Linked DNA regions of Homo sapiens. The protein of the gene in region 1 interacts with the protein of each later gene in a pairwise test. Each region holds a gene or a part of one and is shown on either strand. Other genes may lie near its edges.

Evidence for each region.
Region 2: the proteins of CERT1 (region 1) and POM121 interact in a two-hybrid assay, tested with the Homo sapiens proteins (one large-scale study listed by BioGRID and IntAct).

Annotation. Positions count from the first base shown.
Region 1 is NC_000005.10:75,501,630-75,505,129, forward strand, and holds part of CERT1 (ceramide transfer protein), read right to left. Parts: intron 1-3,500. UniProt on the Homo sapiens protein: Shelters ceramides and diacylglycerol lipids inside its START domain and mediates the intracellular trafficking of ceramides and diacylglycerol lipids in a non-vesicular manner.
Region 2 is NC_000007.14:72,931,595-72,935,094, reverse strand, and holds part of POM121 (nuclear envelope pore membrane protein POM 121), read right to left. Parts: intron 1-3,500. UniProt on the Homo sapiens protein: Essential component of the nuclear pore complex (NPC). The repeat-containing domain may be involved in anchoring components of the pore complex to the pore membrane. When overexpressed in cells induces the formation of cytoplasmic annulate lamellae (AL).

The DNA of each region.
Region 1 (3,500 bases):
AAACAGAGGATAAGAAGGACAAGCCAAATGCCCAGAAGAGAGTCCAGAAACAACCTTAAATAAATATGGGACCGTAATATATGATGAAAGTGGTGTTTGAAACCACTTGGAAAAAGGTTAGTTATTTAATTAATGCTACCAGGATACATAATTAGTCATGTGGAAAAAAAACTAAAAACATCAATATCACTCCTTAAACTAAAATAACTTCCACAGGAATCAAAATTCAAGTGTAAATTTTAGATGAAAATATATCTACATTCATATAGAGAGATAGTCTTTGAGAGAGAAACACCTATCTAAACAAGTAAATACAGAAGCCGTAATAAAAGATGTCAATAAGAGTATGTAAAAATCTAAGATTTCTCTAGGGCCTAATATAGACTATAAAACAAGCAAAGAAGAAACAGACAAGTGACAATGTGGGGGAAAATATTTGCAACAAATGTGCCAAATGGTTAATTACCATATGAAGAGTTTCTACAAGCCAAAAAGGAAAGAAAAACCAAAAAAAAAGTGCATAAGCAATTGGAAAAGGAAAAAGAAATAAAAATGGGCTATAAATTATTAAGTTACTCAACCTCATGGATAAAAAGTGCAATTTAAAATAATAAGATACCATTTTAATGTAGCAGTTTGACAAATACTTTAACATTTGCCAAACCCAACTTCCTCAATACTTGCGGGTAAGGAGAAACAGAGGCACTCATTCACTACTGGTAGGAGTGAGGAGTGGTACTCTTGAAGGAGTATTTGACAATAACTAAAAACAAATTTTAAAGTACATATTTGTTTCAATAATGATTGTAATAAAAATTAGGCATGATTTAAATGTGCAAAAACAGGGTCCAGGCAAATAAATATAATATATCCACACGATTCAACAGAATATAACAGTTAATGTGTAAGTTGTATTAAAACAAGGTGCAGAACAATAGGCTTAATATGATACCATTTGTGTAAATATTTATGAAAGATATAAACAAATCCTTGTATAGTCCTACATATTTTCTGAAAGGATGACCAGAAATTTAAGTTTGGTTGTCCCTCAAGTGCAAGACTAAAAAGCAGCATGTACTTCTTAAACTTTTTAATGCCACAAATTATATTTTTTATCATGTGCACTTTATTTTAAAAATAGAATATAAAAAGTAAACAGTGTAAATATTCCATAAACATTTGCTTTTAATTGAAACAATTACAACTAACATATTCAGAATATCTACTATGCGGCAAATTTTGTAGCAGGGGCTGGGTCTTCTAAGTATCAAGCTATAATAACTGAAGAATTCAACTGTCTTTCTACAAACACTTATTCTACATACAAATAGCTCTTTTTACACAAAGTAAGGGAATACTATTTTTCCTCTCACCTACTTACTGTCAATCCTTTCACATTAAGGAATAAATTCTCTCAAGACATACTTTCTTCCTTGAAATTATTTCACCCACTTTATTATCACACAGATAAAGAATATTGTTTTTATAAATTAAGAGTGATTTAATCATTAAACTAAGAATGAACTTAAAATGGATTAGGCTCTATCAAGAAATGTGGGTTCAGATGCTAGGTCCACCAACAAATAATATAGTAATGAATGGTTACAGTAAAGTCACATCAACTCTTCAAGCCCAGATTTCTTTGTACGTGAATATTATCAATTTCATAAGAGTGCCATATAAAGAAATTAAACATTTACATTCTTTGTATTCTGACATGAAGTGACAATAGGCATAGCCCATATTTAAGGAAAAAAAATACCAAGAGATGCCTATTAAAATTTAATGAGGAATATTACTATTACATTTATTTATTTAACTAAAGTACATACTCTAATTTGTAAACTCATCCTGAGTTCACTGAATTCAGTTATATTTTTAATTTCCTTTAAATATGTAACATGGAGTCTGTGAACCCAAAGGGCAAGGAAAGTTCAAGTTCAATAATATAAATGCTTGTGTTTTTTCCTATCATCCATTTCATTGTATCTAAGACTACCACACAGATTTTGTTGCCTAATTCATCTTTTTACTTCTACTTTTATCTCTCCTTCAAAGAATTCAAATTGTTTCTTGTTCCTACGCATGTCTTTTACTATGTACCACAATGAAAGTTATGCATGTACATATAGCTATAACAAAAATCAATTACAATAAAGTAACACTGTTTTCTTCCTGAGAAGATGGATATAAATGTTAAAATTTAAATTTTTTGTTTAATTTAAATTAAACATTTAAATTTTTTGTTTAATTTAAATTAAACATTTAAATTAAATGTTTAATTTAAAATTTTCTTTTCTCCAAATAAGCCAGGCAACATTATTATAGTCCATAATTCAAGACAGAATAACTATATTTAAATCCACAGAAACTAGCATGGTACTCTAGGAATACTACTACTTAGAGAATAATAAAGATAAAATTTAATTCCTCCCCATTTTTACATCAATCATTATACTATTTTCAAAGAGTTAAGCATTGCAACTAATAAACATCCAATAATAATACGCAAAAGAAGGGGAGTGGAGGATCAAGGAAAAACACTTCAAGATCGCAAGGTACATTTCAATCCACTATTCTGTCCATTGATATGAATAATGATCTATCTCGGAAGAAAAACACCCAAAATATTAAACTAGATACAATTTCTAAACACATTACAATGTACCACATACCAGTCAAAATAAATACTGAGCCTTTATGTTAAAGCTATTTCCTAAAAATTGTCTCTAAGAATAGAGAGCGTAGTTTCATTATCAACACTTCCAAATATTTCTTCTGTGTTTCTCTAACTTGATATTCAATTCTAAACTTTTGTTTTCAAACTTTGAATATACAAGGGGGGAAATAATGTATAAAAAATAATGTAAAAATACTGTAAGATTTTCCCTAAATGCATAACAAACATACGCTAAGTAAGGATTAGATATTAACGGAAATCTGAAGTATTATATATATATCTTTCACTTTTATAAGCCAAATAAATTCTATCACAAAATGTGACTTCTCTTTGAGTGAGTTAGTAAACTCTGTATTTTTGTTTTAACGTACCCATTTTCAGATTTTAACTACAACAGCTCCCTTAACTGACCTCTATTTAACTGTCTGGCCTTAGCCAACACTTTTTTTTTTTTTTTTTTGGCCCATGGCATGCTGACCATTCTTAACCAGTATGCTATTTTTTGTATTATCAGGTACTTCTGTTCTCACTAGTTGGGTTACATGCTTAACAAGTCAGTTGGTTGTTCCCAAACCTGTTTATGCCAGTTTACTTGTTATAGTTCTTACATATCTTAAACATTATTCATGTCTAATGACTACGAGTGCAAAAAGGAACAGTTGTTTCTATATACTAAGTTAAATGTAAACTAAGTAGGCCAGGCGCGGTGGCTCATGCCTGTAATCCCAGCACTTTGGGAGGCTGAGGTGGGTGGATCACTTGAGGTCAGGAGTTTGAGACCAGCCTGGCCAACACAGTGAAACCCCATTTCTACTAAAAA
Region 2 (3,500 bases), on another chromosome or scaffold:
CAGTAGATGAAAGGCAATCCCAATCAGTATCTCAGAACTTTTTTTTTTTTTTGTGGAAATTGACAAGTTGATCTAAAAATTATATGAAAATGCAAAAGGCCAAGATACAAGACAGTCCTGAAGAGAAATGAGAAAGTGGGATGACTGACTCTATCAAGACTTAAAGTATAAGGCTAGGGGTAAAACAAAGACTGGCACAAGGGTAGGTAGAAAAATAGACCAATGGAACAAAACAGAGTCTAGAAATGGACCCACATATATACAGACACTTAAATTAGACAAAGACGGTGCTGCAGAGAAATAAGGATGGTCCTTTCAATAAATGTTGCTAAGAGAAATGGGTATTTCTACAGTAAAAAACAACAACAACAACAACAAAAACCACCAACACCACCAAACACAAAAAAAACTAATTTTGATTCCAACCTCACACCATATACAAAAATTAATTTCAGGTGGTTTATGGATTTACATATAAAAGTAATAATAAAATAATAAAGCTTCTAGAAGGTAGCACAGAAGAAAATTATCATGACCTTAGGTTAGGTAGGCAAAGATTTCCTGAATACTACACAAAGTATGCTAACCACAAGGAAGTAGAATGGCAAGAGCAGGACACTTTTTTGTTGCAACACATACATGACAGACAGCTTGTATCTAGAACATATAAAGAGCGTATTCAAATCTCTAAGAAAAAGACAACAACTTGGGGCCAGGTGTGGTGGCTCACGCCTGTAATCCCAGCACTTCGGGAGGCCAAGGCGGACGGATCACCTGAGGTCACGAGTTCGAGACCATCCTAGCCAACATGGTGAAAACCCATCTCTACTAAAAATACAAAAATTAGCCGGGCATGGTGGTGGGTGCCTGTAATCCCAGCTACTTGGGAGGCTGAGACTGGGGAATTGCTTGAACCCAGGAGGTGGAGGTTGCAGTGAGCCAAGGTCACAGCACTGCACTCCAGCCCGGGCGACAGTGCGAGACTCTGTCTCAAAAGAAAGAAAAAAAAAAAGACTGTACAGTAAAAAGTAAATTTCCTTTTTATCTCAGTAATGATTGCCAGTTTTTAATATATCCTGTAAGAATTATTTTATGCATATTAAAAGATTTTTAAAAGCCCGAATAATAGAGGATACTATACAGTTCTGAGCCTTGTTTTTATGTAATTGCTTTTTGAGATCATTCTCATGAGTACTTCTTCAGTTGCCTTATTCTTTTTCATAGTTACATAGTATATTCCAACTTACACCAATACTGTAAGTTATTCAGTCAGCTCCCTGAAAAGATAACATGTACATTGTTTCCAAGCTGCTATTATTAAAACAATGTTACATTAAATCCTTGTATCCATTTCCCAGTATGTGTGTAGGATAACTTCCTAAAGGTAAAGCTGCTTGATCAAAGGGTGCATGTATCTCTTATGTGGACAATTCCTGTCACAAAGCCCTCTAGAGAGCTGTACCAACTGACACTCCCACCAGCAACGCGTGAGGAGCCTGTTTCTTCTAACACTGCACTTCTATGGTTTCTATTTTACGTTCAAAACTTTGCTTCATTTGGAATAGGTTTCTCTACTATAGGAAAAACTCTTGAACATGAGATTTGGCTGGTAGCCCTTCAGAAAAATGGGTAAAGGATATGAACTAAGACTCATGGAAACAGAACTGAAAATAATCATTCAACATATGAACAGATGATCAAACTACTCATAAGAGACAAAAATTAGATACCTTTTTTTCTTTGAGACAGAATCTCACTCTGTCGTCCAGGCTGGAGGGCAGTGGCGTGAGCTCGGCTCACTTGACCTCTGCCTTTCAGGGTCAAGCAGTTCTCCTGCCTCAGCCTCCCAAGTAACTGGGATTACAGGCACACACGACCACGCCTGGCTAAATTTTTTGTATTTTTAGTAGCAACCGGTTTTTGCCACGTTGGCCAGGCTGGTCTCAAACTCCGGATTTCAGGTGATCCACCTGCCTCAGCCTCCCAAAGTGCTGGGATTACAGGTGTAAGCCACCAAGCTCGGCTGGCTTTTTTTTTTTTTTTGAGACAGAGTCTCACTCTGTCGCCCAGGCTGGAGTGGAGTGGCGCTATCTCTGCTCACTGCAACCCCTGCCTCCCAGGTTCCTGATATTCTCCTTCCTCAGCCTCCTGAGTAGCTGGGATTACAGGCATGTGCCACCATGCCCAGCTAATTTTTATGTTTTTAGTAGAGACAGGATTTCACCATGTTGGCTAGGATGATCTCGAACTCCTGACCTCCAGTGATCTGCCTTCCTCGGCCTCTCAAAGTGCTGGGATTACAGGCATGAGCTGCCACGCCTGTCTTAGATACTATTTTTAACCTGTGAAATTGGTAAAAGCCCAGAGCTACAATAACCAAATCTGCTGGTGAGGCCATGGAGAAATGGTCCCTCTCATACAACGCTGAGGGGAATGCTGAGTGGTGCATGCTCTGTAGGGGGATTTAACAATATCCAGCAAAATTACATGCGCATTTAACCTTTGACCTGGGAATCTGACTTCTAGGAACTTTCCAGAGGCAAAATTGCCAAGGATGAAATGACATATGAACAAATGTATTCTTTGCAGCATTATTTGTGATAGCAGAAGACTGAAACAACCCAACATTTGTCAACAGAGGACTAAAGTACCTATGCAGTTTTAAGACCAAAGATGAGTTTCTGTGTACTGCTATGGAATGACCTCAACTATCTATTATGTGAAAAAGCAAGGTTCAAATCTGTATATACTGTCTACTACCTTAAATGTTAGAAGGTGGCGGTTTTCAGATACACTGATATGCATACCGTTTAAAAAACAATAAAGGATAATCAAAAAATAAAAATGGAGAGGAAGGAAAAATGTAGAGTGGAAAGGGATGGAAACTGAATTTTTGAGTGTATCTTGTTTTAGTGTATTTTTTTTGAAACAACTTATTGTTTCAAAGATTTTACATAATTTAAAACAGAACTATTTCAAAAAGGAAAACACAGAAATCCCTGTAACTTTCAAACATACTGAACAAACGAACCTCACTGTATATAAAGTTGGTGTACCCAAAGGACAATTAACATTACTTTAAAACACGATATATTGATTACATGTCCGTAGCATTCACACAGGGATATAAAGACAAATGAATCACAATTCTTAAACTGACTTCAGCCGTCTTAATAATGACAGTGTTAACAATGACACTGATACCGCTATTTTGAAATTGCATGGGCCAGGCGTGGTGGCTCATGCCTGTAATCCCAGCACTTTGGGAGGCCAAGGTGGGTGGATCACCTGAGGTCACGAGTTCGATGCCAGCCTGGCCAACATGGTGAAATCTCGTCTCTACTAAAAATACAAAAATTAGCTGGGCATGGTGGCGGGCACCTATAGTCTCAACTACTTGGGAGGCTGAGGCAGGAGAATCGCTTGAACTCAGGAAGCGGAGATTGCAGTGAGTCAAGGTCGCACCACTGTGCTCCAGCCTGGGCGACAAGAGTAAGACT